Regions from separate parts of the Homo sapiens genome. Here region 1 is linked to region 2. The links come from fine-mapping of genetic effects on gene expression. Tissue or cell type: whole blood. Region 2 holds a variant in brackets; the other region holds the start of a gene. All regions are shown on one strand. Distances are from middle to middle.

Evidence for each region. PIP is the estimated chance that this variant, and not a neighbour inherited with it, causes the effect.
Region 1: PHACTR2 starts here. The variant in region 2 is fine-mapped to the expression of PHACTR2 in whole blood (TOPMed, PIP 0.96).

The regions. Positions count from the first base shown.
Region 1 is chr6:143,675,198-143,680,348 of GRCh38, reverse strand. It overlaps PHACTR2 (phosphatase and actin regulator 2), which reads right to left and starts at 2,384. Exons shown (of 13, transcript NM_001100164.2): 1 at 2,140-2,384. The coding sequence starts at 2,185. RefSeq lists a silencer at 2,143-2,442 and an enhancer at 2,192-3,040.
Region 2 is chr6:143,538,258-143,543,408 of GRCh38, reverse strand. It overlaps a transcript of PHACTR2 not described here. Among named protein-coding and RNA genes, the nearest start is that of PHACTR2-AS1, 29 kb to the left of the region's middle. RefSeq lists an enhancer at 4,172-4,221. The variant T/G (reference allele first, on the strand shown) is at 2,645.

The sequences.
Region 1 (5,151 bases), 140 kb before region 2:
CAGACTTAAACAACTAGTCAATGGCTAAGATCAAACAGAACAAGGATCTTCACGCCATCTGTAAAGCCAGAGTTAAACAGTTAACAAGGAGTGAACAAAATACCTGGAATAGTAGAGAGTTTGACAGTCTCAGACTCAGAAAAATACAGACATGAATATAAAACTCAGCAAACGTTATTTAATTTAAATTTTTTTTTTTTTGGTTTTCATTTGGAATCTGATGGCAAACCTTCAGGGAAACAGGGTAGCTCTAACGGATTTAGAGACACTGGATACCACGAGAAAACTGTTCTTTTACAATACCACAACTTAAGTCATAACCACTGTCATTCCTTAACTGAAAAATAAAAAACCCTGTATTTATGATGTATGGATTGGTCATTTCAATTCATACAAACTTTTAATCCGCAAAACTGAGGACCTGCAATTTAAGTATAACACCGTTCCGTGAGATATTTCTCTGAATTATCTTTCATGATCAAGCATAAATTTTTGTTTAAAACACTTTTTACTTAAGTAGATTACAGTTTCTCATTATAATCAGTCATTTTATTTGGAATTATAGCAATCCGGGTTTTTTTGCTGTACTAAGACGTAGGGAGTCTCACTTTAGGATTTTATTTGCTTCTTAGACATCATTTATATAATATTCCTTGATTTTTATTAAGGCAAAATTTGCTTTTCTAATATTCACTCGAGTAATATTTTGTGATAAAATCACTAAATTCAGGACAATACTTTCTGTATACTCTTGTATTGGAGTACAGATTTAATTCTATCTTCGCCGGTGCACAAATGTAAAAATATAACCCTTCCTTGAAATGAAAAGAAGTCTCACACCACTTTAAGGTAAGACAAAGGAAACCAAGTCTTATTTGCACAAAATAGTTTACTAAATTTAAAATCCTACTCAACCCCTCCCCGCAAATATCTCTCAAAAAGCTGTCAACATGAGGTCTTTGATTTCAGAGCTGTAGCCATGTCATTAATGGTAAAGAAGGTATATTCTGATTCTGATGTCTCTTCTTTGCAGAAGGGTCTTCTGTGGTATTAACAGAAACCTCAGCAAAGCTTGTGGTATCTCAGGGAGTGAAGCTGTGCTACCTAAAGAAACCCACTGGGTATAAAGTGGGGTGGGGGGTTGGAATGACAGAATGCTATCTAGCTAGACATCCTGAGGCAGATTAAAAAACCTTCCTCTGTACCCTGTCATTTCCTTTCAGCAAGATCCTGTTGATGTTTGCACAATTTAAAAAGTGTATCAAATATCTCAATGAGTAACATAAACGGTCCCTTCGAGTATTATTTATTTTTAATCGTTGATGGAAAAATATCAAAATAGTACCTTTTAAATTTATTTCCTTATCCAATCACAAGTAACACCACCAAACAGTTTTTTTTTTTTTTATCCCTACACTGTCGGGGAAATGCCAGACGTACCTTCCTTCCCTCTTTTTGTTTAAGAAAATGGAAAAAAGAAACTTTTAAAACAGAGCATTAGAACTCAGACACGTTACACACGTCTCCATAAAACTAACTTTAGTCCTGGAGAACTAAGTTCATGAGATATGTTTCCCTAAATGTTATAGCTGCTGTATCTACTATAAACAAAACAAGTCTCATTTGAAACAATTACGCATTTCGGGGCTAGTTATTAAGTATTCAGCGTCTGCCAGGATAAGGCGATCAGCGCTTCTACTCCGAATAACAAACCATAAATCAGTTGACAAGCTTGAAAGCATTCAGTCCTAGTCTGTTCGGAAGCCAAGCGTAAATACAGAAAAACCTGTTGGCATGTTTCTCTTGCTCTCTAAGTTTCGCGTTTTTAAAAACACTGTAATACGCAAATGGCGTTTCCCGTAAGTTTCTGGCTCCGAAATAATTTGGATAAAAAACCACAGCGAGGCATCGCGCACAGAAAAATGGAGCCTGTGCCTTTAAGGTAAAATCGGCTGGATCCCAAAAGGCATTCCTCTTTCACGACAAAGAGTTTGGCGAGCGCTACCTCTGGGGTTTCTCCGAGGGACTTGGCGGGTCCGAGCGGAACCCGACCAGACGACTAACCCTGCCTGCCCCGGGGCCCCGCCGCCAGCCCTGCGCCCGCGCGGCGGGAGCGCATCGCGTGCGCCCCGGACTCACCGCTGCCGGGCTGCGGGGACAGCGTGGACACCGAGGTCTGGCCCATGACTGGGGTCGCAGGGCCAGGTCCAGCGATCAAGCGGCTCCTTTGGTCCTTCGATCATGGGTCCGCTCCCAGCCAGACTTCCAGGCGTTCATGTCCCGGCCTGTGCCGAGCGGCCCGCCGGGTCCCCTCACCTTCTACCCCGCGCGGGTCTCCCAGCCCGGCCGGCCGCAGCCGGCGCGGCGGATCCTGCCCAGCGGATGCCTGTCATTCCTCTATGCAGATTAGCTGGGGTCAGGGGTCACGGGGGAAGAAGGGGGGTGAGGGCGATAGGGAGGGGAGGAGGGGGAAGCGGGGGGAGGGCGCAGGAGCAGGGGGTGGGGGAAGCCCCCAGCCGGCCCCGCCGCACCCGCACCCCCTCAGGGTGGTAGGGAGTTCAGGCTTTCAGACTACTCCTCTTTGACTTAAAAGGTTCAAAGTCAAATGATCCTTACGGGCTACAAGAAAAGGAATTAAAGTATTTAGTCACGGTACTTAATTTAACAAAATTTGTTTCTTAAAAGTTATTTCCTTCCTTACATTCTATTTGCAGTATTGTGGCACTCTCATGTCTTGTGCCCATTTTTTTCTCGTTTTAAAAATTATCTTCCTTTTAACAAATATAATTTTTTAAAAACGGCACTAATGGCCTCAATCAGGCTTGACAACAAATCTAAATGGTAGGTCTACGTGTGAGATCAACAAAATATACTTTTTGCTGTCTCCCACCTAAAACTCTGGAGTGCTGACCTCTCCTTTATTTCAAAAGAATTACTGTGAAATAAAGTGATTAAAATACACAAAAGGGGAAAAAAACTATAACAAACTTGAAAGGTGAATTAAACCCTTCTATAATATCCTGTTAAATCTCAATCTTCTTAAAAATATGAATACAAATAAATATTCTTCATATTTACAGTTAATGATTAATTAGTATAAGTAATCTTCATGCTATATATATATAATGTGTGTATATATATATACAGTATATGGAACATCTGTATATGGTGCATTAGATTGGATGGTGGTTACTGGATGTGTTCATTTTATGAAAATTCATTGAGATGTCTGTAATGATGTGTGCACTTTGCTGAAGGCATATATTTCATTAAAATGTAAAAAATATCAGAAAGTGCAATATATTTAGGTCATTTACCACAGCTTTCATTTTTTAATTTATCCTAGACAATCAACTCTGAACTAACATGAAAATCATTTTTTTCTAAAATTTTTATTATTAAGATCGTGCAGAGCCTTGTTTGATTTTTTTGAAAGGCACTTACTTGTCTGTTTTGTCATGGTTAATTAAGTTGCCCTATGTTTTTTCACACCCAAATAGCCCACCCACCACTGTGAGGAAGATCTTTTCCCTAAAAAAGTGTGATCCATTGTCTTCTTCCCTTTGCCTAATTCACTCTTAAGAAACACTGATTTTTTTTTTTTTAATGAAATTGAGGATTTAACCAAAATGTGAGTTCTAATTAGGACAATAAAATTAATCCTAACTACATTTCCTTATAAATACAAAAATGTGTTTTGGAAACACATCCCACCTGGGGCGCTAAGCGATGAGAGTAAGCAATTATAATGGCTGGCTCCTCCAGCTCTTTGCTTTGAGTTGCCGTAAGAAAAAAACAAACAAACAAAAGTGGTTAAAGGTAAGTTAAGAGGGAGAATGTTTCACTCTTCCTTTTGACAGTCTTTCTGATAAAGGGAGGTCACTGATCAGAGGAAATATACAGTACCTTTTGCACATTCAAAATATGTAACTGTAATAATTTTTAAATACTGATAAAAGTTAAACTTTAAGGTTGCTATCATTTCTTCTTTTCCTTGAGAAACAATAGCATATTTCTATTACTTCTATAAATTCTTATTTCAAAGATCAAGGAGGTGCACTATAGTTCCAGTTTTTCAGGAATTGCTTAATACAGCTATATTTACCTTATTCAAGACCTTTCATGATTTGCTAGTTAATATAATCTTCAGCCTCATCTGGGATTCCTATAATACCCTAACCAGGTTATGCAATTTTCTCTGAAACTCTTCCAGTTCCATTACATTATCCTTGAAGCATGTCAACCAAAACTGCAGGAAGTGTGCACTAAGTTTTCTTTCTAAGAGTGGGACAGTTCTTGTTCTTGGTTTCTAGAGCTTCTGATGGAACTTGGCATTTAAGTGGCCTTTTTATCACAGCTAACAAGTTATACTAATGAACATAGAAAACGTCTACAGAAATCTCTAAATTTCATTTCTAGGTTGTAACGCAAAGGTTAGATATTATCACCTAACAAGAGAATTTTAAGATAATTTTCCCCCAAATTGCCTTACTCTTGCCTTATTAGAACTCACACAGTTTTACTAAGAGTTCTGGGTGTTAATCCCATGGGTTTATAGTTTAACTCTGGAAACATTTAATGTCATCTGAAAGGCATGGACATTTCTCTGTATACTACCTCTCTCTAGGGAATTTATTAAAATGCTAAACAGGATTAGACCCAATACCTAACTCTGAGGAAGCTATCTATTTATAATTCTTCAGCATTTATCCCATTGGTCCCACCCTTTGTTCTCTATTTCTAAACCAATCTCTTATCCAGTGATATCTTGGTAAATGCTTAACTGGTTTGGGCTGGGGGTGAGGAGGCAGGAGGGGGCCTCAGACTGCTTTGTTTACTGTGATGTAAATACTCCTACAATAACCTATTCTACAGGCCTTCAACCAGCTAGCAAAACTGATATCAAACAGCTTGCAAAATTCCTTGAAATGTAACAATTTGGCCCACCAGCCTGTGTGAACTGCCTTCAGCACACCGCTACTTTTCTCTGTTATAATAATGCCGCATCATATCATACCATGGCTGAGTTTGAGGAATAGCTTCTATTTAGCCTTCCTAAAAATATAGACTAATGGCATCTACTGATTTTTTCCATGGAACACTCTAAATATTTTTCAAGCTCTGAAAGAACTACTGTGATTTATTCATTTA
Region 2 (5,151 bases):
TGAGTTCCTGAGGGATGTCTTTGCAACCTTTGTGTTAGCTCACTAGCCATTTGTTGATTGAAAGAAGAAATGAAAAATCAAGATATGCCCTTGCCTACAGCATCTTCATCAGTACGTAGGGGCCAGAATAAATCCACGGCTTTAATATCTGTCTCAGAGCTGCCACTGAGGTACTGACACAAACTAGAGCTTAACTAGTTTAAGTAAATTAGCTCTTCATGCATCCTCTGAAAACAAGAACAGTCATCATCATCATCATGTTATTTACTGAGCATGATGCAAGGCCTATAGCTTAGATCACCAGAGACACTGCTGTGTCTGGCCTGCCACACCCTTTCTGAGTATCCTCTCTGCTTTCAGTCTAACTCCAGAATCACAGAATCACATCTGCTCACCTTTGTATGCCCAGTGCCTGGAACAGTACCTGGCACATAGCAGTAATCAATAAAGACTAATTGAATGAATGGACGAATGGAAACTGGCCAGGCTCAGTCCCTTCTACATGGCCATGTTGGCACTGTGACTTCATGCTCCACAACTGGTTTCGGCTCCAGTGAGTATCTGATCAAAGGCAACAAATCCAGAGGCACCTATGGGGCATATGATCTCTGTCTTGCTGTATAAAGGTGGCTTCACACAATAGGTCTTTTCTAGAGAATTTGAACTATGAAATATGAAGAAATTTTCCCCAGGTAAACACAAGGCAAGAGCTAAAAGGAAACAGAGGAAGATTGCTGTCAGGTAGGTAGGACCCCTGATGTGCCATTTTAAGCAGATGGATGAGGAAACACCTATGAAGGAGAGATAATCTGTTTTGATTAGAGAATAAGAAAGCTGGTCAACAGAGAGACAAACAGAAGCTCAAGCCTGCTGAAACCATGCCAGCCTAGGAAAGGGCTAGAGAAAGAGGAATTGGTTGCCTCAATTCCTGACAACTCTCTGGTGTCAGCCCCAGGTCAGGTGCAATCTGACCTAATAAGGACCTCCTGACTTAACAGGTGAAGCCAATTTTTCAAATGTGCCAAGCTCTGATACAGGACTGTCATCAGCTGCTATGGTAACTTGGTAAGAATCAGATAGGAGATGCCCCTTCTGGAATGAAGCCTGACCGGCGGTCAGGCTCCTGGGTAGATGAGAAGCCCATGGCTTTTGTGCAAAGAAAAGGGTGCTCTCCCTGGGGGAGAAGGAAGGCACACATGTCCACACCAGGTACACAGCTTGACCTGGGCAAAGCGCAGGCTGGACCTGAGCCCACCAGCACCTGCTCCATCCAGCACCCTCTTGTACTGTCCGAGCTGGCCTGGGCAGGGTGGCCTTGCTATTCCCTGACCAGGGAGAGACAGAAAGTAAACTTAGAACCAGATGGTCTTTGTTTGGAAAAAAACCCACTCTGAGTTACACAAATGTAAAGTGAGCAGGTGTTCATTGTTCCTGGCCTAGGGCACCTCCAGCTTAGCTCGTGGCTGGGGCTCAGAAGCCTCTTGGGACCCAGACACCCTTTCGGAGCACAAAGCATCAACTCAAAGAGTTACAACCTTGGAGGTCAGTAAGAAACATAGTAGAAGCACCAGCAAGGGATAAGCAAGCACAAGCTTCCCCCAACAGCACAGGTGACCCAACAGCAGAACTGGTCTTGGACAGCAGTATCTCATGGAAGTGGCCAGGAAGCAGTGCATATGAACTGATAGTACATTGAGGTATGCGAGATTTCTCACTTCCACTCAGCACTGAACACACCAGGAATTAAAGATTTGAGAAAAAGATCCTGGATTTGCTGTTACCCCTATGCCTATATATACCAGGGCATAGGGATACTGAAGAGATGAATCACAGTAATAAAAAGATGAGATTGTACTTGCACATTAAGCTAATGAAGTGGTCCACACACCTATACTGCTTTTTTTGGAGGTGGCTTGAATGGTTCTCTGATCTATGCAGCCCAATGTGCAATGTGCAAGACTAAGCATCATCACATGAAAATAAAAACATCTTTTGGTCCTCCCTATAGCCCACACAGGTCCAGAACAGCACCTGGCACCCAGTAGGCCAACAGTCGGTACTTGCTGAATCTTTACATGGTCTATGCCCCTGGCTGTGTGTCTTCAGGTTCTTTACTTACTAAACACTGTGCTTATCAGAACAGCACATCAGAAACCACTAAAAAGTTATCAAAGCTCCTTAATACCGAACAGGATCTGTCTAAAACTTAAGAGAATACATGACCATATACTATGAGAACCTTGTTTCAAGATTTTACTTTAAAAATTGAGTTAAACATCACTTTATTTACAAAGAAATACTGGATTTTAAAAATCCAAGGCTGGGAGCAGTGGCATGCGCCTATAACACCAGCTACTCAGGAGGCTGAGGCAGCAGGATCCCTTGAGCCTCAGGGTTTGAGGCTGCAGTGCACTATGGTTGTACTGGCGAACAGCCATTGTACTCCAGCTTGGACAACACAGCAAGACTCCATCTCAAAAAAAGAAAAATAAATTCAGAACTTTTGTTGAATTCCAGAAGTGTGAGTTCAAAAACCATATGGCAAAATGAATCCACGTTTTTATAAACATAATAAAAGAGTTTATTCATAAATTCCACTGTTACTTCAATTCTATCTTTAAAAATTGCTTATTTGAAAATATTT[T/G]GTTTTCTTAACTTTTTTGTATAGATTTTGAAATATAAAACTGGCTTGGGTTTTTTTTTTCTGATAAAGCACTTGCATTCTTATGTGAAAAATTCCTCAAGCCACAAATTAAATAAAATCCCTTGAAGTCTGAGACGCTTGTCTTGACAAAAATCTAGTAATAATCTAGCATAGTCAGGGGAAGCCGATTCTCTTGGGGTACCCTCACGGTATTTATCAACACAGTGCTAGCACAGAACAGGTCTTTAAAAATATATATTTAGTATTAGACTGACTGTTTGCAGCAGTGGGCAAGATTTTAGAGGCTGAGTTCCAAGTTTTTATTATTCTTTCCTGGAAAGAAGGATGGAGGTGGAGCTGTGGGGGAGGCTGGGGTAATGATTGCAGGTAGCAAGGATGGTCTGTCGTTCTGGAGGGAGGCTGTTCTCTGACAACTCTTGGCAAGCACTCTTTCTTCCCCTTCCTCTTCTCCATTTCAGGTCACTGTCACTGCAAAAGGTGATTTCCTTTTCCCCTCAACACTCTTCTAAGGACCCACAGCAGGGAGTTAACTCATGATTAGAAATTATCCCTTAGGAAGAACATCTGACAACTAGCTGGAATCAAAAATAGGAGCAAGGAAGGCTGCTTGGGAGACTGCAGTAGTAGAAGAGAGGATGTAGCAATAGGGATGTGAGAAGGTACTAAAACAAATTCTTCAAACTTACACTTGTATCACGGTATCACAAGACATACGGCAGCAAGCCAGGGTGACATAATATGGCACAGGACAGCAGTTCTCAAACTTCGCTACTCATTAGCGTCATCTAATGGCCAGGATGCACCTGATGCCAATGAAATCAGAATCCCTAGGTGTGCGACCCAGCCACAGGTTGCTTCGTTGTTAACTCCCCAAGCAATTCCTACGTGTAGCCAAGTTTGAAAACCAGTGTGGGAGAGCAGCACTTTTCAAACTGCAAGGTGACTAAGAACAACCTGGGGATCTTATTAAAATGCAGATTCAGTTAAGCAGGCCTAGGGTGGGGCCTGAGATTCTGAGATGAGGCCACAGATGCTGGTCCGGGGCTGTTTTGGCAAGCCACACATGACCTTGCTCTAGGTGCTGCCTCTGTGTGTGCCCAGAGCTTCTGGAGAAGGGCTGGAAATTGGGCTACTATAGTGTTAGGCCAAGGAATGTTTTTACAAGGCGTGTAACCCTCTTATTGTGCCTCTGAGATAATTCAGAGATCCCAGCACAGTCATCTTGCTGATTCTCAGATCCATCCTGCATGGCTTACAGAGGCTGCAGAGGCTGTGGGGCATGCTGGAGAAATACTCTGTGTGTCAGTGAAGGACCTGCTCATTCTTTTTCTCTCTGACTCTAAGAGCAGGGAGCTCCTGATCACATTTAGTCTGCTCTTAAAGGGATCCGAGGCTCAGTTCTGAAAATGAAATCAGGTACATGAAAGATGTTCACTCTTCTACATCTGTGCCAGCATCCTGCGGCACATGGGACAACTGAGCTGAAAGGTTTCACTTCCTAGCATCCGTTAAGAGGACACAGAAAAGACAAAGAGTCCTCAGAAGTAAAATAATTTTATAAATTGGAGCCCATGGTTCACATGATGTACACTTTGCACACTCACATTTTAAATGTCTTTGCTGTCCTTTTTCGGCATACAGGCCATAATTTCCATCCATGAAAATGAAAAATGGCGATGCAAGCTATACTTTGTCTACAATCACCAACTAGGTGAATTCTCAGTGGTCTCTTTAGAGTCTCTGAACAGTTAATCTTTGTAGAAATCAATCAAAATAATCCATGGCTCGAGTTCAGTTTGGCCAGCACACCAAGAGCAGGTGGTTAAAAACATTCGGACTCAATGCTTTTCACAATACAAATTCAGAGGATGAATCTTTACACAAATCCCACTACCTCTATTCTAACAGTTCTGACTTGTTTCATCCAATGCGATCTACAAAGTCACAACGGCAATGCTTTTGAGGTTTTTCAAGTACACATGTTGGGCGGCAAAAACAATATGACAAGAATAAGAAGACAGAAGGCTATGGTGAGAGAGTTAGCCAGCTGAAGTGGAGTCAGAGGCATGGAAATGTGCTTTTTTGAACAGGAAGCTCAGCTTTAGCTGAGGTTGAGTTAGAACCCAAAGAAGGCCTGATCCCGGAGCACAGAGCCTGAAAACCAGGGCAGTGGTAGCTGGTACAGTGCACGTTCACGCCCCGGCAGGGCTTTTGCCGCTATGGGTAGTTTTTGATGCTAGCTAGCTTCATTTCTAATTTCCCAGCTCCCATGCATCCTACAAAGATTGCACATCAGACAACTGGTGGAAACTTGACGCATCTGGTGGACTTTTAAAAAACAGTCCTACAATTCTTAGGCTAATGCTTTGTTCAAAAGCAGTTTAAAATGATTACTTAATCCACATAACCTCCCAATGTGGTGGTACCATACTATGATTCCCACTCTGAATACTGAGATAGGAGAGACAAGGTTAAGTGATTTGCCC